4 linked regions of the Homo sapiens genome follow. Changing the gene in region 4 together with the main gene of any one other region gives a genetic interaction. Each region holds a gene or a part of one and is shown on either strand. Other genes may lie near its edges. The genes, in order: PTPRJ, DUT, LIG1 and NAMPT.

Region 1 (7,239 bases), on a different chromosome or scaffold from region 4:
AATTCAGTGTCAGATTAATCCCTCCTTCCCCAAAGTCCACTGGCTTTCGTCTCTCTCTGCCGTGACACATATCGGAATCTACTGTGTATATATATATATATATATATATATATATATATATATATATATATATACACTAAGCTCTCAAAAACAGTCATTCCTATGAATTGAGGTGTACAAAGTTTGAATTTGTATCAAAGATGTAATTATTATTTTTAAAACCTTTTCACTATACTGCTGCTGTAATTACTTTGATTTTTAAAATGTAGATTAATTTTTTTTTTTTTGCTTCAGGTGTGTATCCACCAAGAATTTCAAATTTATGTGGATTTATTTTATTGGTACATAATCTGTAAACTTCTTAAGGCATTAACATGAAAAGATTTTTTCTTTTTATTTTATATTGTGGCTCAGGTTATATTTTGAAGATGTTTTGAGTTTATCCTCCAATAGGCAATGAAGTTGACAAGGTTTTATGAAGGAATAACCAAGTCCCTGGAGTCCTGTGGCTGTTGCCACAGTAATGTGTCCTGCTGTAAACAGGACAGGTGTGTCCTGTTGAGAATGTGAGCGGGCTCTTCCAGCCTCCTGGTCCCTCCTGACTCTGCCACGCCCCTCACCTCACTGGCACTTCGATAACTGACTGGACGTGTTAATGGGTCTTTTAGGGTTCTAAAGGGTGAACCACACTTTTAAAGCCCCGGCTGTGGTTCGGAGGGTTAGTGCTGTATGCCTTTTATTTCCCTTTCCCTTTGAGGTACTGAAAGGATGAAAAGGTGGTGTCATGTTTTGGGGAGAATCTTACTTCTCAAATGGAAATTGCACTTTTTGCTGAATCCTTTGCATTTTTTTGGTAGTAAGCAGTTCATTGAGTATCAGGTCCTCAAAGGAATGAGTTGGCCCGGCTAGGGTGGGCCCTCTTGACCTAACTTCAGAGGGGGCCTTGGCTCAGTAGGTGTGAATCAGGGAAGCCACATTGTCCTCAGGGTGCTGTATGAAGCTGGGTGTGGGCGGATTCCTCCCACACCTTCACACTGGCCTGCCTCCAACTCATACAGATCTCGGAGCGGTCGGTACTTCATTCATAGGTCCCTGTTCAGGCAGCAGTTCTGTGGGCTGTGGCCCTCTCCCCTCCAATATGTCCGAAACCATTGTGATGGGTGGCAAATCCCAGGGAGCTCCTAAGCCCTGCTCTGCCCACATCACTGCCACAGAGAAGTCAGAGGAAGGGACTTGTTGCTAAAAAATCCTTTAAAAGGTTAAATACTTTAAAAGATTAAAGCAACATAACTGTAAACATATTGTATAAAAATGAAAAACACAGGAACCCTCTTCCCTTCCGCCTGGTGTGGGCTTGGGAAATGGGCAAGCGGCCCCAGCAATCATGGGAGGAACTCTTGCGGGGGAGCGGTCTGGGATTCCAAATGGGCAGGTCACACGAAGGTCACGATGCTTCTCTGCATCCTGAAAAGGGCTGGGGACAGGGCCAGTGGGGGTGGTAAGGGTATTTATAGCACAGTGCTTGAAAAGGGAAGATTAATGTGTAAATATAAAGGACACACAGGCTGGGGGTTGGTCAGAGGCAAGAGGAGGGTGCCTCTGAGCTTCAACCCCTCCCAGGAACAATGAGCTCAAATTGGAAGAGTCCAGTGGAATCGGGGGGATGGTGTGAGCACCCCTGTTCAGTCTTTGACAATTGCATACAGAAAAGCAGCTGGTATGGGTTTGGGTGTCAATGAAAGGGCCAAAGACTGGTGGCCAGCTGGTTTGGGGGATTTGGGCCATTGATAGCATCTCCCAGGAACAACGACTTTTTGCCTCCAAAGTTGGATCTAGTGATGATCAGCACCAGCAGGAAATGACATTTGGTGTCTGCCCACTGCAGCCATACTGTGACCTCCAGCCAGACTTCCGCCTAATTGACTCCACTGGATTTGTGCTCTGTTGAGTCAGAGGCTCCCGGGGGTTGGGGATCGAGGGGCGGGGGTCAGCTATGCAGCCCATCACGTGTGTTTTTCATCTGGGATGAAAAAGCCTGGTTCTCTTTTGAAATGCTTGATTGTACTTATTGAGCTAAACAAGTCTTGGTGACTGTTGTTGATTTGCCTCAAAAGTTTTAAGTCCTGGGTTTTCAGACTACTGTGTAGCAGCTGTGTGTTTAACATACTGTAGCTTTTTCTCCCTTGGGGGCACATACAAATAGGATGTGTTGATGTGGACTCTAAACTGTAATTTTCCTGTAACTATTTTGGAATGATGCATATTTCTAATGTTTGTTATACTTGTACAGAGTATTGCTGTTGGTTGCTTTTTTTTTTTTTAAGGAAAAAATGGCCTGAAAACATTTTTTTAAAGACTTACAAATACCAAATATAAAAAAATGTCAATGCATTATGCCTTTGCTTCTTTCTTTCTTCTTTTTTCCTTCTTACAATGTGCCAAGCAGTTTACTGGCCTGCATTTTACTTGGGCATCCTTAACAAAAACACATTTCTCTTTGGGATTTCCGGATTGTTTTAGTTTTCTAGGGCTGTTGTAACAAGTACCACCAACTGGTGGTTTAAACAGCAGAGATTTACTTCCTACAATTTTGGTGGCTGAAATCCAGATGTGGGCAGGGTTGGTTTCCTGTGAGGCCTTTTTTTTTTTTCTTTTTTTGAGACAGAGTCTCACTCTGTTGCTCAGAGTGGAGTGCAGAGGCGTGATCTCAGCTCACTGCAACCTCTGCCTCCTGGGTTCAAGCAGTTCTCCTGCCCCAGCCTTCAGGCGCCTCTCTTCGTAGCTTGCAGATGGCTGTCTTCTCCCCATGCCTCCACATGGTCTTCCCTCTGCTTGTCTGTGTCCTAATCTCCTTCTTTTTTTTTTTTTTTTGAGATGGAGCCTTGTTCTGTCGCCCAGGCTGGAGTGCAGTGGCATGATCTTGGCTCACTGCAACCTCTGCTTCTCGGGCTCAAGCGATTCTCCTGCCTCAACCTCCCGAGTAGTTGGGACTACAGGTGCCTGCCACCACACCCAGCTAATTTTTTTGTATTTTTAATAGAGACAGGGTTTCACCATGTTGGTCAGGCTGGTGTCGAACTCCTGACCTCGTGATCCACCCGCCTTGTCCTCCCAAAGTGCTGGGATTACAGGCGTGAGCCACCGCTCCCGGCTAATCTTATAAGGACACGAGTCATACTGGATCAGGGCCCACCCTATTGACCTAATTTTACCTTAATTACCTCTTCAAAGACACTCCAAATGTAGTCAAATTCTGTTTTAGTGGGGGTTAGGACTTGACCATATGAGTTTTGGAAGGGACCCAGTTCAGCCTGTAACACATATTCAGGGCAATTTAGTGAAGAGGAGGCTTGGAGGAAGTGGCTGTGTGTCTTAAGATTGTGTGTGTTCCCAGAAGGTTGGAGGTATGAGCCTGCAGGTGGATGGATACCCAGTTGGTTGGGGGTGTGTTATGATATAGTTAGCTCTCCTGGGCTTTCTGCTTAGGGACAGCGCTTGGGCTGCGGATAAAGTATCCATCATCTTCCTGTTTTGATTCAGGCCAAAGTTGTCCCAGAACTTTTCTGCCCACAGTGTTGGTTTAGAGGAGGCAGGGAGACACTGTATTGCTGACCTGTTATCTGCATACTTAAAAAAAAAACAAACCAAACTAGGCTACCCTGCAAAATAGCACAGCATTCTCTGCTCCTAGCACTTAGTTTGATAAAAACTACCTTACCCAGGTATAGCCTAGGAATTGAGATATTGTGGGAAAGAAAAACCGAATGATCACCTGTGGTTTTATAAAATGTAAAGCTTAAGTGAGAAAACAAATTCATAGAACTATAAACAGAGAACAATCCCAATAAGAATTAAATAAGTGCATAGAAGAAAAGAAACACAACTCTAGAATAATATAATAGTGGGATTAGGAGTGGATTTTATTTTTATATTCACCTGTTTATAGTTTCTAACTTCTCCCAATGAATATGGAGTACTTAAGAGTAACTAGTTTAAAACTTAGCACTTTTCCCTCCTTGCCTCAAAAAAGTGAAGCTACAGTATAGTTTTAAATTTACTAGTCAAGTTACAAAATTCTTTTTTTTTTTTTTTTTTTTTTTTTGGAGACAGAGTCTCGCTCTGTCACCCAGGCTGGAGTGCAGTGGCACGATCTTGGCTCACTGCAAGCTCCGCCTCCCAGGTTCACGCCATTCTCCTGCCTCAGCCTCCCTAGTAGCTGGGATTACAGGCGCCCGCCACCATGCCCGGCTAATTTTTTTGTATTTTTAGTAGAGATGGGGTTTCACCGTGTTAGCCAGGATGGTCTCCATCTCCTGACCTTGTGATCCGCCCGCCTCGGCCTCCCAAAGTGCTGGGATTACAGGCGTGAGCCACGACGCCCGGCCAAGCTTCCAAGTTCTGATAGCCATCCCATCCCTTCTGGGGTTTCACAGCTCTATTTGGGGCTGAACGTGGCAGATCTCTGGGGCCTCCAACATGAGAGCCTGGGCTTTACATTCCTGCAGGCAGGTGAAGCCTCCTGACCCAAAAGGTGAGTAGTGGGCCCCTGTTGGGGCCAGCAGTTTTGGATGATGCCACTAGATGGCGGCAGAGAACTGGGCTGTGGAAGCAATCCTTGGCTAGGCTGTGGCAGGGCAGTGGAGCACATAGGATTGGAAAAGAAACCAGGAGGTCCGTAAGGCAAGGCTAAAAACCAGCAACAGGGCGAAGGAAGCGCCCTTGCCAGCAGCTGGCAGCTTTCCGTATAATTTGTTAGATAATATGTTCATGGTAAAAAAATTTAGGAAAAGAAGGAAAATAAAAAAATCCTATGTTGTCACCATTCAACAAGATGTCCCCCAATAATCCTCCCGCCTGGTATTCACATTTTTGTGTAGCCCCTCCTCCACTGTAGCAGGGTTGGTCTGTGTGACTGGTAGATTGCAGAGAGGTGATGGCATCCCACTTCTGAGATAAAACTGTGCAGTTTCTCTCTCGCTGTCTCTCTCCCTCCAGCCCCCCTCCCACGGCACTCTCTCCAAAACCAGCTGGCATGTTCTGAGCAGCCTTGAGAGAGGCCCACGTGGTGGGCTTCTTCTGAACCTCCTGCCAACAGCTACATGAGTGGGCCTGGAAGCAGATTCTCAGGTCAGCCTTTGGATGACAGTAGCCCTGGCCGACAGCTTGACTGCAGCCTCCTGGGAGACCCCAAGCCAGAACCTACCCAGACTCCCTGACTTGCAGAAAGCATCTGAGATGATAAATGTTTACTGTTTCAAACTGCTCTGTTTTGGGATAATTTGTTACACAGCAAGAGATAACTAATATGGGCTAATATATCCCACCACATAGGAAATACCACTGTTAACATTTTACTGTAAATAATTCTGTAACCTTTAGAATTCTCACAAACACCACACACACACACCCCCCATATGTGCACACATGCATACATCTTCATCTTCATGTATTTGCTTTCATCTTTTTGCAAAACTGGAATCAAACATGTTCATATTTCTTTTTAAGATTAACATATTTCTTTGAGTAATATTTCTACTGAAGCGTAATACAGACAGAAAAATGCACTAATCATAGGTTGGCTGTTTGAATAATTGTCCAAAAATGAACACACCCATATAACCAGCACCCAAATTAAAAAGTATATACGACCAGCATGCCATAAGCCACCTTGGTGCCCCCTTTCAGCCACACCCTGGCAAAGCTAACCACTATCCTGGCTGCTAACCTTTTAAGTTGGTTCTGTGCTCAATTTTTTGAAACTTGCTTCTTTTTTAAAATTAAAAATTTTTATTTTTAGAGACGAGGTCTCACTCTGTCATGCAGGCTGCAGTGCAGTGGCACTGTAATGGCTCACCGTAGCCTCAGACTCCTGGACTCAAGTGATCCTCTCACCTCAGCCTCCTGAGTAGCTGGGACTACAGGTGCGTGCCACCACACCTGGCTAATGAAACTTGCTTTTTTTTTTTTTGAGACAGAGTTTCGCTCTTGTCACCCAGGCTGGAGTGCGATGGTATGATCTTGGCTCACTGCAACCTCTGCCTTCCGGGTTCAAGCAATTCTTCTGTCTCAGCCTCCCAAGTACCTGGGACTATAGGCATGTGCCACCATGCCTGGCTAATTTTTTTGTATTTTTAGCAAAGACAGCGTTTCACTGTGTTGGCCATGCTGGTCTTGAACTCTTGACCTCAGGTGATCCGCCCACCTCAGCCTCCCAAAGTGTTGGGATTACAGGCCTGAGCCACCGTGCCTGGCTGAAACTTGCTTTTTATACTTGACATATTGTGAACTCTTTCTGTGTTATTAGGTATTCATCCTGTTCACCATTTTAAGAGCTGCATAATACTCCATAGTATGGACACATACCACTCTCGAGTTAACTACTCTTTTATTGATTGCCATTAGATTATTTCTGATTTTACTCTCCTGTGAATAAGGATGTGGCATCTATCACAGTAGCCAGATCTTTGCAGACATCACAATTAATTTCTTAGTAAACTTTTCTATAAAATTAATGAATCGAAATATATAAAAAGGTAGGGCTTTAGGCTGGTCGTGGTGGCTGATGCCTGTAATTCCAGCACTTTGGGAGGCCAAGGCAGGTGGATTGCCTGAGCTCAGGAGTTTGAGACCAGCCTGGGCAACAAGGCAAAACGTCATCTCTACCAAAAAATACAAAAAATTAGCCGAGTGTGGTGGCACATGCATGTTGTCCCAGTTGCTTGGGAGGCTGAAGTGGGGGGGATCACTTGAGCCTGGGAGGCAGGTTGTGCCAAGATTGTGTCACTGCACTCTAACTTGGGTGACAGAGTGAGATCCTATCTCAAAAAAGAAAAAAAGGTAACGCTTAGATGAAATTCTGCTAAATTTTTCTCTAGATAGCAATTTACACTCTCATTATAGTGTGTGAGAATGCCTGTTTCTTTACAGCTTCATCCACAATGAACATTATAATAATGAACACCCCGCCCCCCTCCTTTTGTAACTTGAATAGGCAAATGAAAAAGAAGCAAACTGTGCTAGGCCTTTCTTGGATTGCTGTAAAGAAACACCACCTGAGACTGTTTAATTGATAAAGAAAAGAGGTTTTAGTTTGGCTCATGGCTCTGCAGGCTATACAGGAAGTGTGGTGCTGGCATCTGCTTCTAGTGAGGGCCTCAGGAAGCTACAATCACGGAGGAGGGTGACCGGGAGCCAGCATGTCACATGGCAAGGGCAGGAGCAAGAAAGAGAGGGTGACAG
Region 2 (7,848 bases), on a different chromosome or scaffold from region 4:
AAACGAAAGGCAGAGCTGCCTGTAATCTACCACACTTTCATCTCTACAGCACGTTTTACCTGTACTAAAAACTTTCCGTATGCTGTTGTATTTAGTCCTCACAACAATCCTTAACTAGATAAGTGTTACTTTTTACACAGGCAGGAGTTTGTGAAGAGCTGAATTGATTTCCCCAGAGGCTTGAAGATGATATAATTTTTTATCCCGAATTTTGGGCTTTTTTTTTTTCATCTGACTACTGTGCCCAGTTCTTAGAACCATTAAGGTAGGAGAAAAGTAATGCTGAGAGGGAAGGAGATTTTATACTAAATCCCAAGCATTGGGATTTATTTTAAAGTATCTCAGATAATTCAAACATGAGAACTATTAGTCTAAGCACAGGAGAAGAGAAAGTAGTGCCTGATGATAGCAACAGAAAAAAAAGGAAAAGGAAAGTAGGTATGGACAATTGTAGCTGGAAAAACTACAGTCTCTTAATTTTGATGAATAAAAGTAGAGTGATATAGTTTGACTAGACCTTTCCAAAGTATATTTTGGAGCACTTTCTTGAGTCCTAGGGGAGTCCTTGATTTAAGATACCTTAAGTAGACTCCTAATAAACACAGGTGACTTTCTGTATACTGAAATTGACATGGAAATAATGGATCAGCAATAAATTAGGGCTTAACTGTTTAAAGAGGGATTTCAGTGAAAGAAGGGGTAGTACTGCTTTACCAGAGTTAATTAAGGTCTCCAAAGTAAACTTCCGGTTCTGCTCATTGTAAAATCTCTTAAATTTCTACCCAGGAGAGGGCCACAGTAATATCAAGAGTAGCAGCATTTGCTATGTGGACTTTAGAGGAATTCTGTTCCTAAGCAAGGTCCATCTCCAGGGGCCGTTCACGGTGATCAGCTGTCTCCCTCAGCCAGGAAATTCATAGCCTAAGCTTGGTAAACTACCAAGCCCTGCCTGACAGATACAACACAGTTCTTTATCTCTTATTTTGTCCACCCGTTTTTCTCCTTTCCTTCTGCATATTTTCCCTAATCACACAGATCATTGTGAGAATAAAATGGGTTAATATATGTAAACCAATTAGAACTGTTCCTGGCACACAGTAAAGGCTTAATCAATGATAGCTAGTATTATTAGTAGTATTTGGCCTTTTTTCTTTGTTCTTTCTTCATTTTTTTCCTTTTCAAACTATGGTTGTAAAGCATCCACCTTTTGAAAGTTTGCCTTTCTGCCCTTTCACGCTGATAAGTACCTCAGTTTCCAATAAACTTTTGTTCAGGGGCAAACATTTACAATGTTGACATCTCTTCACACCACCAAAAATATTCATGGAGAATTATTTTATCTAAAGCTGTCTTTTTAATAATAAAATAGCCACCTCTACCTTCTTCATAAACTTTTAAGATGAATTGGTAATTCATCATAGCAAGGTTGATTTTAGAAACTAAAGTTGCATTAATTCATTAAATACACTGAAAGTAATTTTGTATGCTTGGTCACAAAGAAAATATAAAAACAATTTTATAAATAGATTTGCAGTTATTTTCTTTCAATATTTTCTTAGTGCCTATGATTACACAATACCACCTATGGAGAAAGCTGTTGTGAAAACGGACATTCAGATAGCGCTCCCTTCTGGGTGTTATGGAAGAGTGGGTAAGTCATTTAAGAAACAGGTAACTATTTGTCAAGTTCTCCTTTGTGATAGATTCTTCATGTTTCATTTGGGGTAATAAGCAGGCAATATTGCTTGGGCTGTGTCCTAAAAGAAGCACCATTTGTGATAGCAAATGCACTCTTTGAAAGGCTTTATTTACATCTCTGCTTTGCCTCTTTTTGACCCTTTTATTTTTCTCCTTCCTCACTGGAGCTTTTAGGCTCACACTGGCCTAGAAGGCTGTTCTCAGAACATGGCATTTTATATTATGAGAGTAAAACTTCTGACCTGTTGGTCCCAGAATGTGTAAGCCTACTTAACCTTTTCTTGTTTGGCCATGGGGTTAGGGTAAGGGATACTCTTCAGTGTTGTAGAGGCACTGGGAGGAGCTAGGACAAAATGGAGTACACGTCAACAGGTTTGATTTTTCTGGAGCGGATCAGTTGTTACCAGACAGTTCTTTGCAAGAGCGTAAGTTCTTTTTGACTAACTTCAGAGTAAACATAAAGGAGGCAATGGAGCTGTGACGCCCTCCTCCAGGGAAAGGAGCTAGACTGGCACTATATTATTAGCCATGAGTGAGGAAACTGCCAGTACTTCAGCCCTTAAAAGATAACAAGATGGGCTCTCATCTCATCTCTTGAGCATCATTGACTCCATTTTTTAGAATTTTTTCAGGGGAAGGGGCAGGAGATGGAGTGAAATAAAGGTTAGTACAGAAAGAGGCAGCATTATTGACAAAGTGCCTGATTTAAATTATTCTAAAATAAAATGCTGGAAGTTAGGATAATTAATTATAGGCCTGATGCTTGAGTCTGCAATAATAAGGTGTAACCTTAGCTTTTTATTTTTTTCATTTTTTAGGATTAAAAAGTATACTAGCATTGAATCATTGAGACTTAGTTTTTGGCATTTTTACTTAACTGATATTAGCCCATTTATCTTACTCTGGTTCATGTGTTTCCTACAGGCATGTCTTTTGGCATCTGAATCATGAATAGTGGGGTCCCAAGTTGTAGGCTATGGTCTGCTACTATTTGGTTAGGTTTGTTTCCCTCTCCCTTCCTCTTCCTTTCCCTTCCCATCTGCATTGTACATGTTGTGGTGTCCCATCTTAAAACCAAAGTCTTCTTCCTCAGTAGTGTGTTCCTGCTGGCCATACTTCTCTTTCTTCCCCTTTGAGGCTTAACTTCTTGAAAGAGCAGCCTACAGTTGTTCCCGCTTGCTCACCTTTCAGCTCATTCTAGCAGTCCTTCTCCCCTGTCTGCAGCACCACAAATTCTGACTGAAGTCACATGGGAGTGGTTTAAGTTAGTTTTGAATTAAAACCTTGTGGAATTTTTCTAAACTAGTCTTTCCAACTTTGGTAATGCAGTATGATGAATATATATTCTTTAATTCAAAACCATGTGCTAAAGTTAAGATGAAGATATAGATATTATAGGTGAAGAGAATGACATGCTTAAATTGCATCAGTTATCTCTGATATAGCCCTTCCCCCTTAAAATAACCAATGTCTCCTTTTTTGTTTTTTAGCTCCACGGTCAGGCTTGGCTGCAAAACACTTTATTGATGTAGGAGGTAATATATTTCCTTTTTTATTCTGTAAATGTTTGCAAGTATTTACTTTGTCTTTAAAAGGTAATATTCAAATGACAGATTTTATTTTTAAGAAAAGAAAATGATTAGAGGAAAGCTTGTTATAATAGGAGGAAAAGCTTTGTGGTTATTTTAAGTAATTATATTTTGTTTAACTACTAACTTAATTTTTAAAATAATGATTACCTAATTAATAATGACAGATTTAATGATATAATAATTAAGTAATTATTTAAGCAACAAAAGTTCTAGAAAACACAGGTCTATCTTGTAAGAATTTTCTTCATAAGAGAGCTATCTGTCTTTAGCAAAATTTAAGAAGAAAATCTTTCCCTGAAGTCAGGAGAGAAAACACTTTTCTCTAAATTTGTTAAGACAGTCCTCTGTGTTACCTGTTTCCCTTATAATAAAGCCTTTCTCATGTTTGTCTCAAAGTTAACCCTACCTCATGTGGTACCTTTCATGAAGAACCCTCAGTGTCCTCTGCTAACTACTCTTGATACAGAGCTACTCCTCTTATTGTAAGGAAATTTCTACTTTCCTGATGTGGTTTCCTTGTTTCAGGTCCGCTCCAACTGGGATTCAGACCCCACTTATGTGGTCCTTACATACTGACCCTTTATCCCATCAGTAGTGAATCTTTCACTTAACAAGATACCTTGGCCCCCACATAAGTAGGTGTGCTAGATCTCCTCCTCCACCCGTTTTTACAGAGCTGCTTTATGGAGGCTTGTTAACAGATCAGGAAAACTGGCTTAGAAATGAGCCCACATGGATATGTGGTAAAAACTGGAGTCTCTGTGTGATTCCAGCCTCCTTGTTCTTTCCACTGCAATTAATTGTGGAGATTACCCTGCTGCATCCCCCTCACCAACTAAACACGTCCAGAATTAGCTCACTTTTATGTGCCACTGCAAGGGCTAACTAAGCACTTAATGAAACCTGGCTATCCTAGACCTGCCCCTTAGTCTAACATTTGGTGGGTGTGGTGTCTCTCCATAGTGTCACCAGGTGGTGCTGTGGGACAAGACAGGACCCCAAAAGTACACCCTTTAGGGACTAAAGGGGAGCTGAGTTTTACATAGCAGGGTGGACATTGACAGCCCACTCTTGGGTTGAGGATTCCTTGGGCTCTGTAAGTTATGCCCGATGTTCAAAAATGCTTTTACAAGGTCAACTGTGGTCATTTTGGGACAGTAACTTAAGGATATAAATAATTGTATATATTTTCAATGAAGTTTCAAATGATTGTTCAAGGAACGGGAGCTTTGGAATAACAACTGGATGTAGGTCCCAGCTCTGTCATTAACTAGTTATTACTTAACCTTTCTGAGCCTGTTTCCTCATTTTACAATGGAAATTAGTGTGCCTGCCTCTAGAGGTAGGAGGATTAAATGATAATGTGTATGAAATACCTAATATAGTACTTGGCACATATTAGATTCTGTGAGATATAATTTCTGTCCTTAGGGACTTCACAGATTGTTTTTATGTGGAAACTTTTTCTTTTATTCGACTTTGTTACTAATTTTTGCTCTGTTTAAAACAACTTTCTGGAAAAAAATTCATGTAAAAGAATGGAAAGTTAGTTTGCCTAGTGGTTGGTATGGTGTTATTCATAAAATCACATTGTGGTGTGTTCTTGGATGCAGAGAATCTTAACAATCTCCCTTAGGCACAAGTTTATCATAGTTGGCAACAGTTTTTATTTCTGAAGAGAGATGTTGTTAGAAATCCCAGGCTCTAAATAAGGGTCAAAGGGAAAAGTTGAGCATTCAGGATTCTGTTCAGAATTCACATCTGGTAGGTGTGGATAGTTTTTCACTAAAAAAGGTTTCCAACAAATGACATGCCAAACTCTTGACACAGTAAAACTTTTGCCTGAAGTCAGTTAATCACTCTGCCAGTTCCAATGCATGATTTTTCCAGTGATAACTTCAAGTTACTTTCTGCTTTCTCTGAGGAGAAATATCCCTGATACTTATATCCTGTAGGCAGAGAAGGCTTTTCTTGGAGGTCGAATGGCAATTGGGTGGTAAATGAATTTGGAACTACTGAAATTTTTATACCGTCAACATTCATGCAAAAAAAAAAACTATTGAGGGCCTTTTTTTCTGCCATACATTTGAATTGACTTCAAACTTCTTAATTTCTTTTAGTCACTTAAAGGTTTTTCACATTTTCGTGGCCCAAGCATAAAGATCACCTATCTGCAGGATTCAAGACACCCAATCATTTGAGTAGTTCTGATAGGACTGCTTTACAGATACGTTAGCAGAGGCCTTTCAAAAAGGGAGTGTTTTTGTATGTTAGAAGATACTATAAAGCCAACAAGCAAATATTTGCAACTTATATGAAAAAGAACAAATGAGAAAAAAACATACACAAAATATAGACAAGGACATGCAAATGTCCAACAAATGGGAGGAAAAAAATCCAGCCTCACTAGTCATCAGGGAATGAAAAGTAAGGCAATGAGATAGCCATTTTGTACTCATCATATTGGCCAGAATGTAAGAGATTGTTGCCATCAAATATTGGCAAGGATTTTGGAAATGGGCATTCTCAAATATTGCTGATGGAAGTTTGAGTGGCTACACCTTTTTTGCAACCTATTTGATGAAAATAAAAAGCATTCATATACAAGGATATACTTAAAGGGCTGCTTCATTTATTATAGCAAAATGTAAAAGCAGCCTGTGTCTGATATTATGCAAGAGAATAGTTACATAGAAACAATGGTACAGGTTGGGCGTTGTGGCTCATGCCTGTAATCCCAGCACTTTGGGAGGCTGAGACAGGCAGATTGCTTGAGCCCAGGAGTTTGAGGCTTATTTGAGCAACATAGGGATACTTTCTCTCTACAAGAAATACAAAAATTAGCCAGGTGTGGTGGTGCCTTTGTACCTGGAGGCTGAGGTGGGAGAATCACTTGAGGTTGAGGCTATAGTGAGTTGTGATCATACCACTATACTCCTGCCTGGGCTATAAGAGTGAGACCCTGCCAAAAAAAGAAAGAGAAGGAGAGAGAGAACCCATATTTCCATATCTTGTATCTAAAAAGAATGGCTAACATTTACATATATTAATCTCAAAGGATAAAAAGAAAAAAATAAAGTAGTATGTAAGATATATTTCTGTAACATTAGCTATCTCAGGGAGGGTAAGAGAATATTATAAGCTTTTACTTTATATGTATTTGTATTGTTTTAGTTATTTAAAAATTTTTGAATAAAGTAGAAACAATAGTTCAGAAGTCAGTCCATGTCTTTCTCTAACTCATTCAAGATAGATGAATTATTAGCTTGTACCTCAAAATCTCCCAGCATGGAAGTTCTCTAGCCTACTGTGGCCATTTTTTCTAGCATGGAACAACATGCTATGTTGAGGGATTTCTTCATTAAATCTAATTTAAATTGTCCCTGCAGTCAAAATTTTTTCCATATAGATAATATGGAAAACAGCTGGTTTCATCTTTATATCAAATTTTTTCATAAATATTAAGGTGTAAATTAATGGTCAACTGACGGTGGAGAAATAAAGCAGGGTTTGGTATTGGAATTGGTCAAGTTCAATAATGGATTGTTTCCTTCAGGCCCGACAGGAGATGAACTGCCTTTGCTGCTTTTCTGCCCAGTTTTATACTCACTCTTCTCGTAAAAGTGTTGCATCAGGAACCTTTTAAGAAGTGCTTAAATTCAGATTCACTTGTCCCTAGTAATTCATTCATAAAGCACAGGGGTTCATTTAAACGTATGTTGTAATCCATTCGGAAAATCTAAAATGTTGTTTTTGCTGAATATTTTTCCCCGTGGTGGACCTAAGGGTTTGCTTTTTTCCCCCCATTATATGAGAAAATTGAAAGGATATGCTTAGGAATTACCCTTGTTCTTAAAAAATGGGGGGTGGGTATGCTTTGGGGTTTTTTTGTCTGTTTTCTCAGCTTTCAAATAATGAGGAGTATGGGCAAATAGCATTACTGCCCATTGAGCTGAACACAGGATTATTTTTATTTCCATATTTTTTCCTTCATCAGGGCTTTTGTTTGGGGTAGAGTATTAATAACAAGTAAGATGTGACATGGAGCTGTCTTCAGTTAGATTCACGTGAGTCTTATCCAGCCTTTCACAAACTGAGGAGAAAGAATTAACGTGTATAGCAGGAAATTGGGGGTGGGAGGAGGAAGGGGAGTGACTGCTAATAAGGTAGGGGATTTTTGGAGGGAGGGTAATGTAAATGTGCTATAATTGACTGTGACGATAGTTGGCCAACTCTGATACACTATGAACTGTGGAATTGTAACACTTCAAATGGATAAATTGTATGCTTTGTGAATTATTTATCAATATAAAAAAATGAAAAGGCCCGGTGCACCTGTATTATCTGTGCTTGTGCTTATGGAAATATTTTAAATTATTGGCTCAAAGATAAATGCTAGCAAGTCTGGTAAGTATAACTCTCTGGGCTATGTCAGGGACCTGGCTCAAGTCTCCCCTGCAAAGATCTTCTCCCCCTGTGTTCATAATCTTAAACAAGTATTAATTACACAAAAAAAGTTGTACTCATGAAGCCTATGTGCTACAGTCTTCTGAGAAAC
Region 3 (7,848 bases), on a different chromosome or scaffold from region 4:
CCGATCTCAGCTCACTGCAACCTCCGCCTCCTGGGTACAAACGATTCTCGTGCCTCAGCCTCCCAAGTAGCTGGGACTACAGGTGCGTGCCACCACACCCAGCTAATTTTTGTATTTTTAGTAGAGATGGGATTTCACCATGTCAGCCAGGCTGGTCTTGAACTCCTGACCTCAGGTGATCCACCCGCCTCAGCCTCCCAAAGTGCTGGGATTACAGGCGTGGGCCACTGCGCCCAGCGGAAATATGTTAGAATGATGAGAATGTGGAAATATTTTATACATTCATTGGGGTGTCGGTTACTTGGGTGTATGAACTTTTCAAAACTCATCAAACAGCATAGTGCACACTGAAAATCACTAACTTTTAGGGAAATTACATCTTAAGAAAATTGATTTAAAGAACAGTGCTTGGCACGGAACAGGAGCTCCCCTAACACGTGCACTGAACTGTGCCTCTCTCTGTCACTGTCTCTAACAGGCAGAATGATGGGCACCGTGCCCCCTGCTTTCTTAAATAACTTATTTCCTATTTAATTAGGGGCAGGCAAAGAGAAAGGCTCTTTGATAGGGGACTCCTCGAACAGGCACGAGACCCCTACTGGGTGCAGAGAAGTCCCCAACTCTGGGGCCTGTGAGGCCCAGCCCTGTATGACTCTGAGCTGCTATTTCTGAGGCTTGGGGCCTATCCACAGGCTGGCCCCCTCCAAACTCGTCCTGACTCCTCCTCCCCGCGTTCCTGGCTGGAGAGGCTGCAGAGTTAGACTCTGGCTTTCCGAGGCTTTGTTGCACTAGGGTGGCCATGGAACCCAGTGCTGGACAGTGACTCCCAGCTGCAGTCCACGGCGGGGGAGGGGTTGTGGGTGGGAGGTGTCCAGGAAAGTGTTAACTCAAGCTAGAATCCCTTTTCCCTCTTTCTGTCTGGAAGAATGACATCTGTTTGGGAAACTCTAAGGGGACAAGCATTGGCACTAAAAGCCAACCAGCCAAGGACAGCAGGGGATAGAGGTAGCGATAAGCTTGGTTCAGGGGGACATCAGTGCTCAGCCAAGTCGGTGCTGGGGTGCCCACCTCTAGATGTGAGAAAAAATCATATGGGCTTACACCACGCAGGACTGAGTGCTCTGTCATTTGCAGCCAAACGCAACCTGATCTCCTCCCAATAAACCCCGCACTGTGCCACACTGGCCTAGATGGGCCTCAGGCCTTTGCACCCCTGACCACAGACCCTGGCAGAGTGCAAGTGTGTGGCAGACGCCCACCTTGGGGATGCGGCTGATGATGTCCGGGTACTTCCCAGTGTTGTCTTCCTGATTCCTGCTGAAGATCTTCACCTCCCCGCCTTCCAGGGCGTGGATCTGTCACGATGGGAGAAGGGAGGGGAAATCAGCTGAGTCCCCTCATGTGGCCTCAGCTTTCTCTTCTGACCCCACCTGCACTGGTAGAAGGTTCTGGAAGCTCTGGAGGAGGAACTGGTGCAGAGACTTGAGCGAATCATCTCCTCAGTTCCAACAGCACCTCCCAGCCCTGCTCTGGAAGGCCCTACCATCATTTTCTTCTTCATTTCCAATCCCTACACCTCTCCCCATGTAGGCACATGCACCTTGCTGCATGTGGGTGCTGATTTGTTTAAATGTCATTATGCTCTAGATCTCATTCTGATTTTTTTTTGAGGCGGAGTCTCGCCCAGGCTGGAGAGCAGTGGTGCAATCTCTGCTCAATGCAACCTCCACCTCCCGGGTTCAAGAGAGCCTTCCGCCTCAGCCTCCCAAGGAGCTGGGATTACAGGCGCCCACCACCACACCTGGCTAATTTTTGTATTTTTAGTAGAGCCAGGCTGGTCTTGAACTTTCGACCTCAGGTGATCCGCCCACCTTAGCCTCCCAAAGTGCTGGGATTACAGGCGTGAGCCACTGCGCCCAGCCTCTATGTCTATTTATTTTAAGACAGTCCGGTCACAGCCCTTGAGCAGGGCGGCATATATAGCATCTTATATGTTTGTTATTATTTCCAGGAACAGTTGTCAAGAAATCATTGTCACTATCGTAAATCATCTTGTGTCTTTTTTCTCAACACTATTTTGGAGATCCATCTCTGATCCTGTGTCTGTTGGATCCACCCTTTTTTTTTTTTTTTTTTTAAAAGATGGAGTCTCACTCTTATCGTGGAGGCTGTAGTGTAGTGGCACGATCTTGGCTCACTGCACCCTCTGCCTCCTGGGTTCAAGCAATTCTCCTGCCTCAGCCTCCCGAGTAGCTGGGACTACAGGCACACGCCACCACACTGGCTCATTTTTGTGGTTTTAGTAGAGATGGGGTTTCACCATGTTGGCCAGGCTGGTCTCCTCAGGGGTCCACTTCCTGTAACTGCCCCGAGCCCTGTGGCTCCCACCCACTTTGCCTGCTTACCTATCCCCAGGTGAGAAGGCCCCACACTTGCCAGGACAGAAGAGACACAACACATTCTTACAGACCCCAGGACCAAGGACGCCTGAGGCCCTGGATCACAGGACACACATGCACGTCACGGCATGAAGGGGTCATGTAGGCACCTCCCAGAACGGCTGTTAAAATGAACACACCCACCAGCAGCATCAGCGGAGCCCACGTTTCATGAGCTCCCACTATCATCGGTCAGGACTCTGGAGGATTGTAGCTTCGGATAAGCTGGTGAGGTAGTTAAGACCACACCCTAGAGGCCAGGCACGATGGTTCATGCCTGTAATCCCAGCACTTTGGGAGGCTGAGGTGGGTGGATCATGAGGTCAAGAGATCGAGACCATCTTGGCCAACATGGTGAAACCTCGTCTCTACTAAAAATACAAAAAATTAGCCGGGCACGGTAGCGGGCGCCTGTAGTCCCAGCTACTTGGGAGGCTGAGGCAGGAGAATCACTTGAAGCCAGGAGGTGGAGGTTACAGTGAGCCAAGATCATGCCAATGCACTCCAGCCTGGATGACAGAGTGAGACTCTGTCTCAAAAAAAAAAAAAAAAAAAAAAAAAAAGAACACACTCACTGCATGGAGGTGGATGCTGAAGCCCAGAGAGATGAGCGAGGGCTCGGCAGTCTGTGGCGCAGGCCGGCTTGAAGCTCAGGCCTCAGTGACCCCACACCCCTGCTCTTTGACGTTTTCCTGTCTGTGGAAGGGACATGTCCCACTCCCCATACCTGTGCCCTCTGCCCGTCATATTTGTATTCGCAGGTGAAAGCTGCCTCCTCAAAGCGTTTCAGGACCTCGCTGATGCCCCGGGTGGGATGGGCCAACATTGGTTTCAGGGGAATCCCTGGGAAAGGAGGAGAGTGAGTTAGAGGAGAGGGAAGGCAATGGATTAGAGGGGGAACATGGAGAGGAGAACTGCTAATGGGCCCCAGGACCATTCTGCTTTCTTGCTATTCAGTCACGAAGCCTCCCACGTTTTAGAAGGGGACCTAGCCTCCCACTGGGGACTACAGCCCCCGGCCTTCCTTCCAGGTGGGAAAGGCCATGTGATTGGAACCCACGCAGCATGTGCAATGTCTGGCTCACATCCTTGCAAGGAATCTGGTTGCCTCCCCTCCCTCCTCTGCGTCCCTCCTCCCACAATTAGAACAGGGAAGTGAGCCACATTTGATCACAGACATTGGGGTGACAACCTTTGGAGGGCAGAGGGACACAGGAACCTGGGTCCCCGGGTCATCCCTGGGACACAGCTGCACACCTGTACCTTCCCTGGCCACCTCCCTTGCTCTGGACACTTCTGTGTGACAGAAAGAAATTCTATCTGGCCTGACCCACTGCCTTCTGGCCCATTTTTATTTACTTATTTATTGTCTCACTCTGTCGCCCAGCTGGAGTGCAGTAGCGCGATGACGGCTCACTGCAGCCTTGAACTCCTGGGCTCAAGCGATCCTCCCACCTCAGCCTCCCGAGTAGCTGGGATCACAGGCACACGCCACCACGCCCGGCTCCTGTTTATCACAGCAGTGTCACCTACACCCTATCTACTCCACAAGGGGAAATTCCAAGGAGAAAAGCAGTGGGTTTCAGCACCAGGGAGGAGCATTTGGTTTTGGTGGGGGAGAGGACTCTGCAAGTTCTGAGAGGGGCGCCTACGATGGCCACCCTCACGCCGACTCAGGAGGGAGCAGGGCTGCTGCCAGGCTGGTGAGCGCCCCTGGGGCCTGTACCTGGGCTCAGCTTGCAGTGCTCCGGGAGACGTTCCAGGCCGTGCTCCAGCAGCACGGGGATAATTCGGTCCAGGTCGGGAACCTCGCTGGGGTGGCGGGTGAGAACAAGATAGGGGAAGCCTTTCTAGAACTCACACAGTTTGGAAAGAGAGCTCGGCCTGCTCCCAGAAGCCTGGGCTCCTGGATGCCTCTGCCCACTGAGTCACCACCTGCCAAGCTCCTCTTGCCACCCTGTCTCTGTGCTCTCCCTTCGTGTCACTATCTGTTGCTTTGTCTCCCTTAGTCTGGCCTTGCCCCTGTTCCCTATCTGTCACCACGAGACCAGCGATTCTCTACTCGGCTACACAGGAGACCACTCAAGAATACAGTTTTTAAAAAAAGGTTTTTGGCCGGGCATGGTGGCTCATGCCTACAGGCATGTAATCCCAGCACTTTGGGAGGCCGAGGTGGGTGCATCACTTGAGCCCAGGAGTTCAAGACCAGCCTAGCCAACATGGTGAAATCCCATCTTTACTAAAAATATAAAAGTTAGCTGGGGGTGGTGGCACGCGCCTGTAGTCCCAGCTACTCAGGAGACTGAGGCAGGAGAATCACTTGAACCCTGGAGGCGGAAGTTGCAGTGAGCTGAGATTGTGCTGCTGCACTCCAGCCTGGATGACAGGGCGAGACTCCGTCTCAAACAAAATAAAAATAGACAAAGGTTTTCAAGGCTAGGTTCCACCTACAAAGATTTTGATGTAGCTGGTGTGGGGTAGGCCTGAGGTCAGCAGCTGATAGAGCCCCACGTGCAGGCAGAGTTGAGCTTGCTGCCCGGGCCTGTTCACCACTCTCTGCTCAGCACCCAGTGGGGGGCCCTGGCCCAGAGCAGGTGCTCTGAGGCCATCTGTGGAACTGCCATCGGCCCTCCTGCCTCTGACATCCTCTCTGGGGCAGTCATGATCTTGGAGTCACCAGCCCTGGGTCAGCTGCTGGCCTAGGTCCCTCCACATGGCTCTCTCTGGAGCCCTCGTGGCCGCTCCACGGATGTCCTCTCCATGACTGTCAAGACCCTTCACCATGTGTCAGTCACCTGCTCCTCTCTGGGTCCCTTAAGGCCTTTCTGCATGCACAGCCCTGTCTGGCACTCAGAAACCTCATGTTGCCGGCTGCCCTCCCTTGCTGTCAGCGTCTTTCTTTTTTTTAAGACAGTCTCACTCTGTTGCCCAGGCTGGAACGCAGTGGCGTGATCTCAGCTCACTGCAGCCTCCAACTCCTGGGTTCAAATGATTCTTGTGCCTCAGTTTCCCAAGTAGCTGGGATTACAGGCTAATTTTTGTATTTTTAGTAGAGACAGGGTTTCACCATGTTGGCCAGGCTGGTCTCAAACTCCTGACCTCAAGTGATCTGCCTGCTTCAGGCTCCCAAGTGCTGGGATTACAGGCGTGAGCCACTGTGCCTGGCCGCTGCCAGCGTCTTTCTATACCTCTCCTGGGGTCACTGACCCTTCACTGTTTGCCACCTTCCTGATCTTTGTCACCATCCTTGTGTCAAGCACCAGCCTTGTCTAGATCACCACCTCTGCTCTCAGTCACCCCGTGACCGGCACTCGTGATGCCTGTCCGTCACTTCACTGGCCCCACCCACTGCTCCTCTGGCTCCACCCCCACCCTGGCACTCTGCCCACAGCCCCTGGCAACTCCACCCACTGCCCAGCTCTCACCAGAACGTCTGCTTCAGGATCATGCCTTGCTCCTCCAGCCACGTCTTTCTGGCCTCTGCTGTCTTGCCCTTCCCAGCATCCACCATGGCTGGTGGGAATTCTAAGAAAAGACCCACCAGAGGCTTTGGAAGGCACCCACATCCTTGGCTACACCAGGGTGCAGTGGGTGGTTTGCTGTATGGCAAGGAATGCAGATGCCGCGGCCCAAGACGCCCCCTCCCCCCCACCCAGGAGAGAGGAGCCTGGTATGGCAGGGGCCCGCTGGGGAAGGGGCGGGCATGGGCCTCTGAAGAGGAGGGGGGAAGCCTGAGGTAACTCCAGCGAGGGATGCAGAGACGGGCCACAGGAGCTCACCTTGGCCCGGGGGCGTGAGGCTCACTGCCTGGGAGAGGGCAGCCAGCACCGACTGCTCTGCCAGCCCAAGGCGCAGCCGTCCGCTCAGGGACCTGGGGAGAGAGCAGGCCAGGGAAGGGGGCTTGTCTGCACCTCCCCAATCTTGCCTCCTCCCTTCTCTGATCTCCTCGACCTTGATGTATGTAGACCCTCTCCTCAAAAACCAGAAGAATCTTCAGAGCCTGGAAGGGACCCCAGATATCACACAGCCCCATGTGACAGATGAGGAAACTGAGCCAGGCAGTAATGATCCTGCCCACTAGCATAGACTGGGGAGGGGCACAAGTAGGTGCACCAGCACCTCCCATCTCAGCTGCCCTGAGGGGTTGGCGAGGCTTGAGGAGGATGAGTCAGGGAGAGAACTGAGCCTGGCGCCCGCCCTGGTGACTGTAATGGTCAGGACCCCAGCATGGTCCTTGCTTTGAGCCAGTGGCAGGAGACAAGTGGCTTAGTTTGCCTCCCCATGTCTCCATTTCCCCTTCTATAAACTGGAGGTGAGGGTAACAAGACCAGTCTCACAGAGTTGCTGGTAGGAACTGATGAGGTAAGGCACGGGGCACAGGGCAGGGCTCCCAAGAAATGCTCCATGATGTGAGCCCTCAATGGATTTGCTCTCACTGTCATGGCAAACAAACCCTGGCTTCCTGCTGCAGGGCCCGCGCCCAAGCCGAGGCAGACCTCACCAATCAATCACAGCATGCTTCACCCACAGGGGCCCAGGGGCCTTCTCTAGACAGCACTACCAAGGGACAGAAGCTGGCCTGTGAAAGGAAATGGTGTCCCTTCCCACTCTTTAGGGGCTGGGCCTCCTGCTCATGCTTTTCTCATCCAAGGATGGTCAGGGCATTTGTGATGATTCCAGCTGCCAGTCCCTCCCTCCTTTCACCTCCGAGCCTGCAGTCCCCCTCTGTAGCCTCACAGGCCCACACGCTTACCTAGCGATGAACCGGGCTTCTGAGTGGCGGCAGGCCACAAAGAGGCCTTTGATGATGTCTATCTTCTTGGCTGTGGACTGGAGAGTCAGGGGAAGAGCCGTCAGTGCCTGGTGAAGGCAGGGACCACACCTCCACCCCACCAGCCGTGCTGCTGCCCTGCATTTTGGAATACCTGCCCTCCTTCCCTCACCCCATCCCCATGTCCCAGCTCCCATGGCCGCCCACTCTTAGGGCAGTAAGAACGAGCTAGCTCTCCTCCTTGCCTCCCTCTCCCTTTATCCAGGAAGTATTTACTGAGTCCTGTCATGTGGCAGCCATGGCATTAGGTCTGCTAGACTCTGAAGAGGAGACTCCCCTAGGATTGGGTGCAGGAAGGAGGAGAGGAAGCTGTGCACCCCATGAGAAGGACTGATGCGACCCAGCTGATGGTCTACCCAGAAGCCTTCCTGACACACGCGTGGCCTCAGGTCCCCAAGATGTCTGGGGTCCGGGATGAGCGGCCCGCCCCACTCACAGCACTGCCAGTGAGCCTGGCGATGTCGCGGAACTTGCTGAAGACCCCGGAGGCAGTGAGCGGAGGTGGTGGCAGCATGAGCCTCTGGGTGCTGCGGCTGTTCTCGGCCACCAGCCCCACGTCGCCTTTCTCGGCTGCCTCAG
Region 4 (7,441 bases):
TCCAGTGTTTAGGTGATCTCAAATTAGGAAATGCATTTAACCATGTAAAAGATGAGTGCTAAAGTAAGCTTTTTAGGGCCCTTTGCCAATAGGTAGTCATTCAATCTGGTATTGATCTTTTCACAAATAACAGAACTGAGAAACTTTTATATATAACTGATGATCACATAAAACAGATTTGCATAAAATTACCATGATTGCTTTATGTTTATATTTAACTTGTATTTTTGTACAAACAAGATTGTGTAAGATATATTTGAAGTTTCAGTGATTTAACAGTCTTTCCAACTTTTCATGATTTTTATGAGCACAGACTTTCAAGAAAATACTTGAAAATAAATTACATTGCCTTTTGTCCATTAATCAGCAAATAAAACATGGCCTTAACAAAGTTGTTTGTGTTATTGTACAATTTGAAAATTATGTCGGGACATACCCTATAGAATTACTAACCTTACTGCCCCTTGTAGAATATGTATTAATCATTCTACATTAAAGAAAATAATGGTTCTTACTGGAATGTCTAGGCACTGTACAGTTATTATATATCTTGGTTGTTGTATTGTACCAGTGAAATGCCAAATTTGAAAGGCCTGTACTGCAATTTTATATGTCAGAGATTGCCTGTGGCTCTAATATGCACCTCAAGATTTTAAGGAGATAATGTTTTTAGAGAGAATTTCTGCTTCCACTATAGAATATATACATAAATGTAAAATACTTACAAAAGTGGAAGTAGTGTATTTTAAAGTAATTACACTTCTGAATTTATTTTTCATATTCTATAGTTGGTATGACTTAAATGAATTACTGGAGTGGGTAGTGAGTGTACTTAAATGTTTCAATTCTGTTATATTTTTTATTAAGTTTTTAAAAAATTAAATTGGATATTAAATTGTATGGACATCATTTATTAATTTTAAACTGAATGCCCTCAATAAGTAATACTGAAGCACATTCTTAAATGAAGATAAATTATCTCCAATGAAAAGCATGACATGTGTTTCAATAGAAGAATCTTAAGTTGGCTAAATTCAAAGTGCTTGACATCAAAATGTTCTAGAGTGATTAGCTACTAGATTCTGAATCATACATCACATCTGACTAGAGACCAGTTTCTTTCGAATGATTCTTTTATGTATGTAGATCTGTTCTTCTGAGGCAGCGGTTGGCCAACTATAGCCCAAAGGCCAAATTTGGACTTCTTTTTATAAATGCAGATTGTCTATGGCTGCTTTCCCACTACTCCAGCCTAAGGTAAACAGCTGCAATAGAAGCCAAATGAGAATCGCAAAGCCCAAAATGTTTATTAACCTGCCCTTTACACAAAATTACACAAAAAGTTTCCTGATCTCTGTTCTAAGAAAAGGAGTGTGCCTTGCATTTAAAAGGAAATGTTGGTTTCTAGGGAAGGGAGGAGGCTAAATAATTGATACGGAATTTTCCTCTTTTGTCTTCTTTTTTCTCACTTAAGAATCCGATACTGGAAGACTGATTTAGAAAAGTTTTTAACATGACATTAAATGTGAAATTTTAAAAATTGAAAAGCCATAAATCATCTGTTTTAAATAGTTACATGAGAAAATGATCACTAGAATAACCTAATTAGAAGTGTTATCTTCATTAAATGTTTTTTGTAAGTGGTATTAGAAAGAATATGTTTTTCAGATGGTTCTTTAAACATGTAGTGAGAACAATAAGCATTATTCACTTTTAGTAAGTCTTCTGTAATCCATGATATAAAATAATTTTAAAATGATTTTTTAATGTATTTGAGTAAAGATGAGTAGTATTAAGAAAAACACACATTTCTTCACAAAATGTGCTAAGGGGCGTGTAAAGAATCAAAAGAAACTATTACCAATAATAGTTTTGATAATCACCCATAATTTTGTGTTTAAACATTGAAATTATAGTACAGACAGTATTCTCTGTGTTCTGTGAATTTCAGCAGCTTCAGAATAGAGTTTAATTTAGAAATTTGCAGTGAAAAAAGCTATCTCTTTGTTCACAACCATAAATCAGGAGATGGAGATTAATTCTATTGGCTCTTAGTCACTTGGAACTGATTAATTCTGACTTTCTGTCACTAAGCACTTGGTATTTGGCCATCTCCATTCTGAGCACCAAACGGTTAACACGAATGTCCACTAGAACTCTGCTGTGTGTCACCCTTAAATCAGTCTAAATCTTCCAGACAAAAGCAAATGGCATTTATGGATTTAAGTCATTAGATTTTCAACTGACATTAATTAATCCCTCTTGATTGATTATATCATCAAGTATTTATATCTTAAATAGGAGGTAGGATTTCTGTGTTAAGACTCTTATTTGTACCCTATAATTAAAGTAAAATGTTTTTTATGAGTATCCCTTGTTTTCCCTTCTTAAATTGTTATCAAACAATTTTTATAATGAAATCTATCTTGGAAAATTAGAAAGAAAAATGGCAAGGTATTTATTGTTCTGTTTGCCATAATTTAGAACTCACACTTAAGTATTTTGTAGTTTTACATTCCTTTTTAACCCATTCAGTGGAGAATGTCAGCTTTTCTCCCAAGTTGTATGTTAAGTCTATTCTAATATGTACTCAACATCAAGTTATAAACATGTAATAAACATGGAAATAAAGTTTAGCTCTATTAGTGAAGTGTTAAATTTGTGTGCTTCAAGTAATGCCATTTTCAGGCCTACCTGTTTTAAGTATTCCTCCAGTTCAAAGAATTAGAAGATGAGAGAAGGGCAAGTGTCAGAGTTGACTCCTTTTCTGCTTTGTGCAACTGTATAGATGACAGTGCCTTTTACTAAGGAAGAACACTGGAGGGACATCAGATTTGAGAGGAAAGAGCACGATTCCCGTGTTAAGGCTTGAGACGCCTTTGACATATCTAAATGTAGGTATTAAGTAGGCAGTTGATGATACAGGTTTGTGGACAGAAGGGCCTCAAGGTATGACTGATGTATACCTTGGAAGGTATACATCTTTGGAAGCACACAGTAAAGGATACTCTTCTAGGGATAGTATAGAGCAGGAGTTGGCAAACCCCACGCCATGAGCCAAATCCAGCCCACCATCTGTTTTTGTAAATAACTGTATTGGAACATAGCCACACCCATTTATTTAGTTACTGCCTTTGGCTGTTTTCTTGCCACAGTGGCAACACTGATTAGTTGCAACAGAGAAATTATGGCTGTAAAAACTAAAATAGTTTACTGTGAGGCCCTTCACAGGAAAAGTGTGCTGATCTCTGCTAGAGTATAAAGAGAATCTAGGGCTAAACCATGAGTAACTCTTGAAGGTTAAGTGGCAGAACATGAGCAGACCAAATGACAAGCATAGCTAAAGAGATGAAAGTTCCAACCAGAAGGAGTGAAGTCACAAAAGCCAGAGGAAACATTTTTCAGCCCAGCTGTTGAATGCTGCTGAGAGATCAAATAGGATGAAGAATTTAAAACAGCTACTGGATTTAGCCACCTGGAAATAATTGGTGCCTTAGACACATTCCTTTCCAGGTAGTAGAAGAGGCTTATTTCTGAAAGAAGCTCCCTTATATACCTCTTTGAATGTGGGTTGCGAAAAGGGAGGAGAGAATGAGGCAATAGTATCTTTGTCCTTCTAGCTGTAGCCTTACATCTGAAAAAGGTCCAGGAAAGAGGGAGGAGTTGAAAATAAAAGCAAAAAGACATCAGTGATGATTTGGGGTTCCAGAGAAGGTGGAGAAAGGTAAGATCCAAAGCACTTGGTAGGGTATTGGCCTTGAATGATAGGGGTCCTTCTAGAAGAAAGGAGAAGATGGAAGCAGGTGTGTACTTTGGTTTTCTACAAAGTCGGAGGCCAGATCCCACTTGTACGTGGTTTATTACTCATTCATTTATGTTCACCCCAGAGAAGCGCCATTTTTCATGGTTAGCAGCAGAATTCAGTTAGAAACACAGTTATCCTGACCTGCTTTATATATTTTTTAAATTCCGTAATTGGCTACTGAGCTGTTATTTCTTTGACATAAACTAGGCAATGCATTATAACAAACTATCTCTCAGACCACAGTGCAATCAAACTAGAACTCAGGATTAAGAATCTCACTCAAAGCCGCTCAACTACATGGAAACTGAACAACCTGCTCCTGAACGACTACTGGGTACATAACGAAATGAAGGCAGAAATAAAGATGTTCTTTGAAACCAACGAGAACAAAGACACAACATACCAGAATCTCTGGGACGCATTCAAAGCAGTGTGTAGAGGGAAAATTATAGCACTAAATGCCCACAAGAGAAAGCAGGAAAGATCCAAAATTGACACCCTAACATCACAATTAAAAGAACTAGAAAAGCAAGAGCAAACACATTCAAAAGCTAGCAGAAGGCAAGAAATAACTAAAATCAGAGCAGAACTGAAGGAAATAGAGACACGAAAAACCCTTCAAAAAATCAATGAATCCAGGAGCTGGTTTTTTGAAAGGATCAACAAAATTGATAGACCGCTAGCAAGACTAATAAAGAAAAAAAGAGAGGAGAATCAAATAGACACAATAAAAAATGATAAAGGGGATATCACCACCGATCCCACAGAAATACAAACTACCATCAGAGAATACTACAAACACCTCTACGCAAATAAACTGGAAAATCTAGAAGAAATGGATACATTCCTCGACACATACACTCTCCCAAGACTAAACCAGGAAGAAGTTGAATCTCTGAATAGACCAATAACAGGAGCTGAAATTGTGGCAATAATCAATAGTTTACCAACCAAAAAGAGTCCAGGACCAGATGGATTCACAACCGAATTCTACCAGAGGTACAAGGAGGAACTGGTACCATTCCTTCTGAAACTATTCCAATCAATAGAAAAAGAGGGAATCCTCCCTAACTCATTTTATGAGGCCAGCATCATTCTGATAGCAAAGCCGGGCAGAGACACAACCAAAAAAGAGAATTTTAGACCAATATCCTTGATGAACATTGATGCAAAAATCCTCAATAAAATACTGGCAAACCGAATCCAGCAGCACATCAAAAAGCTTATCCACCATGATCAAGTGGGCCTCATCCCTGGGATGCAAGGCTGGTTCAATATACGCAAATCAATAAATGTAATCCAGCATATAAACAGAGCCAAAGACAAAAACCACATGATTATCTCAATAGATGCAGAAAAAGCCTTTGACAAAATTCAACAACCCTTCATGCTAAAAACTCTCAATAAATTAGGTATTGATGGGACGTATTTCAAAATAATAAGAGCTATCTATGACAAACCCACAGCCAATATCATACTGAATGGGCAAAAACTGGAAGCATTCCCTTTGAAAACTGGCACAAGACAGGGATGCCCTCTCTCACCACTCCTATTCAACATAGTGTTGGAAGTTCTGGCCAGGGCAATCAGGCAGGAGAAGGAAATAAAGGGTATTCAATTAGGAAAAGAGGAAGTCAAATTGTCCCTGTTTGCAGACGACATGATTGTTTATCTAGAAAACCCCATTGTCTCAGCCCAAAATCTCCTTAAGCTGATAAGCAACTTCAGCAAAGTCTCAGGATACAAAATCAATGTACAAAAATCACAAGCATTCTTATACACCAACAACAGACAAACAGAGAGCCAAATCATGAGTGAACTCCCATTCACAACTGCTTCAAAGAGAATAAAATACCTAGGAATCCAACTTACAAGGGATGTGAAGGACCTCTTCAAGGAGAACTACAAACCACTGCTCAAGGAAATAAAAGAGGATACAAACAAATGGAAGAACATTCCATGCTCATGGGTAGGAAGAATCAATATCGTGAAAATGGCCATACTGCCCAAGGTAATTTACAGATTCAATGCCATCCCCATCAAGCTACCAATGACTTTCTTCACAGAATTGGAAAAAACTACTTTAAAGTTCATATGGAACCAAAAAAGAGCCTGCATCGCCAAGTCAATCCTAAGCCAAAAGAACAAAGCTGGAGGCATCACACTACCTGACTTCAAACTATACTACAAGGCTACAGTAACCAAAACAGCATGGTACTGGTCCCAAAACAGAGATACAGATCAATGGAACAGAACAGAGCCCTCAGAAATAACGCCGCATACCTACAACTATCTGATCTTTGACAAACCTGAGAAAAGCAATGGGGAAAGGATTCCCTATTTAATAAACGGTGCTGGGAAAACTGGCTAGCCATATGTAGAAAGCTGAAACTGGATCCCTTCCTTACACCTTATACAAAAATCAATTCAAGATGGATTAAAGATTTAAACGTTAGACCTAAAACCATAAAAACCCTAGAAGAAAACCTAGGCATTACCATTCAGGACATAGGCATGGGCATTTTGTAATTTTTATAGAGATGGATTAACGATCTCGCTTACAAACTCTCTTGAATTGGCTACACGTTTAATTCTGATTAGGTCTTCCTGACTCGCCAGAGTTGTTCTGCCAGATCTCTGAGCCTCTCGCTTTCCAGCCCTTCCTCTTCAGCTAACAAACATGTTCCTTTTTCTCACACCTTTTTTAAAGAACTCCCTTGATAACACCAGCTCTAGCCTCCCTTCTCCCATTTACATCAGACTTCTCTCCATTTACTGCCTCACCTCCCATTCAGTTATCTTCCATCTGGTTCTCACCTCTTATTGGACAAAGCAGTGACCTTCTAATTGCCAAATGAATAAATTTTGTTATTACATTATCTGAGGGCTCTCCTGCATTTGCCACTACTAAGAATTCATTTCTTTACTACTTTGTTCTATGATCTTTTGGGGTCTTCTAATCCCTGTGGACTGTCCCTTCTCTCTCGGTCTGTTTTTCACACATTTTTAAATGTTGACACATCCCATTTATCTCCATGTTCATCTTGGCTGATGTCAGCCATTCACGTGGTGTCAGCTATGAGCTATCTACTACAGCCTCCACACATTTATGTCTCCAGCCCAGACTTCTAAATCATTCTACCTGTCACTGATACATTTCCACTCAGATGCAACAAATCCAAGCTTACCATATTCCCCCAGAACTTACTATATTTATTTTGATTCTCTCATTTGGCAGCTCAGGCAGCCCCCAACATGAAACTTCCCTCTCCATTACCCTATACATTTAATCGGCCACATAATCCTATTGATTTACCTACTAAATAACATTATAATCTGTGTCTTCTCTCCAACTCTTATTTCAGAATCTCAAATTTCTTCCTGAAGTACAGGCTGAGCATCCCAGATCCAAAATCTGAAATGCTCCAGAACATGGAATAAAGTCTTGTATGCCTACATGACACTCAAAGTAAATGTCCTTAGAAGCATTTTGGATTTCAGATTTTCAAATTAGGGATGCTCAGCCAGTAAGTAAATGCAAATATTCCAAAATCTGAAATCTAAAACACTTCTGGTCCCAAGCATTTCAGAAAGTAATTTCTGTATTACTCAACTTGTAATCAGAAATTATCTAAT

Evidence for each region.
Region 1: changes in NAMPT (region 4) and PTPRJ together harm fitness more than expected from each alone (negative genetic interaction), as found in Homo sapiens cells (one large-scale study listed by BioGRID).
Region 2: changes in NAMPT (region 4) and DUT together harm fitness more than expected from each alone (negative genetic interaction), as found in Homo sapiens cells (one large-scale study listed by BioGRID).
Region 3: changes in NAMPT (region 4) and LIG1 together harm fitness more than expected from each alone (negative genetic interaction), as found in Homo sapiens cells (one large-scale study listed by BioGRID).

The regions. Positions count from the first base shown.
Region 1 is NC_000011.10:48,168,449-48,175,687, forward strand, and holds the end of PTPRJ (receptor-type tyrosine-protein phosphatase eta isoform 1 precursor), read left to right. Parts: 3' UTR 1-2,391; downstream 2,392-7,239. UniProt on the Homo sapiens protein: Tyrosine phosphatase which dephosphorylates or contributes to the dephosphorylation of CTNND1, FLT3, PDGFRB, MET, KDR, LYN, SRC, MAPK1, MAPK3, EGFR, TJP1, OCLN, PIK3R1 and PIK3R2. Plays a role in cell adhesion, migration, proliferation and differentiation.
Region 2 is NC_000015.10:48,332,858-48,340,705, forward strand, and holds part of DUT (deoxyuridine 5'-triphosphate nucleotidohydrolase, mitochondrial isoform 1 precursor), read left to right. Parts: intron 1-1,559; coding exon 1,560-1,651; intron 1,652-3,188; coding exon 3,189-3,233; intron 3,234-7,848. UniProt on the Homo sapiens protein: Catalyzes the cleavage of 2'-deoxyuridine 5'-triphosphate (dUTP) into 2'-deoxyuridine 5'-monophosphate (dUMP) and inorganic pyrophosphate and through its action efficiently prevents uracil misincorporation into DNA and at the same time provides dUMP, the substrate for de novo thymidylate biosynthesis.
Region 3 is NC_000019.10:48,129,817-48,137,664, forward strand, and holds part of LIG1 (DNA ligase 1), read right to left. Parts: coding exon 7,706-7,848; intron 7,269-7,705; coding exon 7,192-7,268; intron 6,310-7,191; coding exon 6,218-6,309; intron 5,964-6,217; coding exon 5,864-5,963; intron 4,251-5,863; coding exon 4,165-4,250; intron 3,282-4,164; coding exon 3,166-3,281; intron 1,356-3,165; coding exon 1,260-1,355; intron 1-1,259.
Region 4 is NC_000007.14:106,243,502-106,250,942, reverse strand, and holds the end of NAMPT (nicotinamide phosphoribosyltransferase precursor), read left to right. Parts: 3' UTR 1-2,645; downstream 2,646-7,441.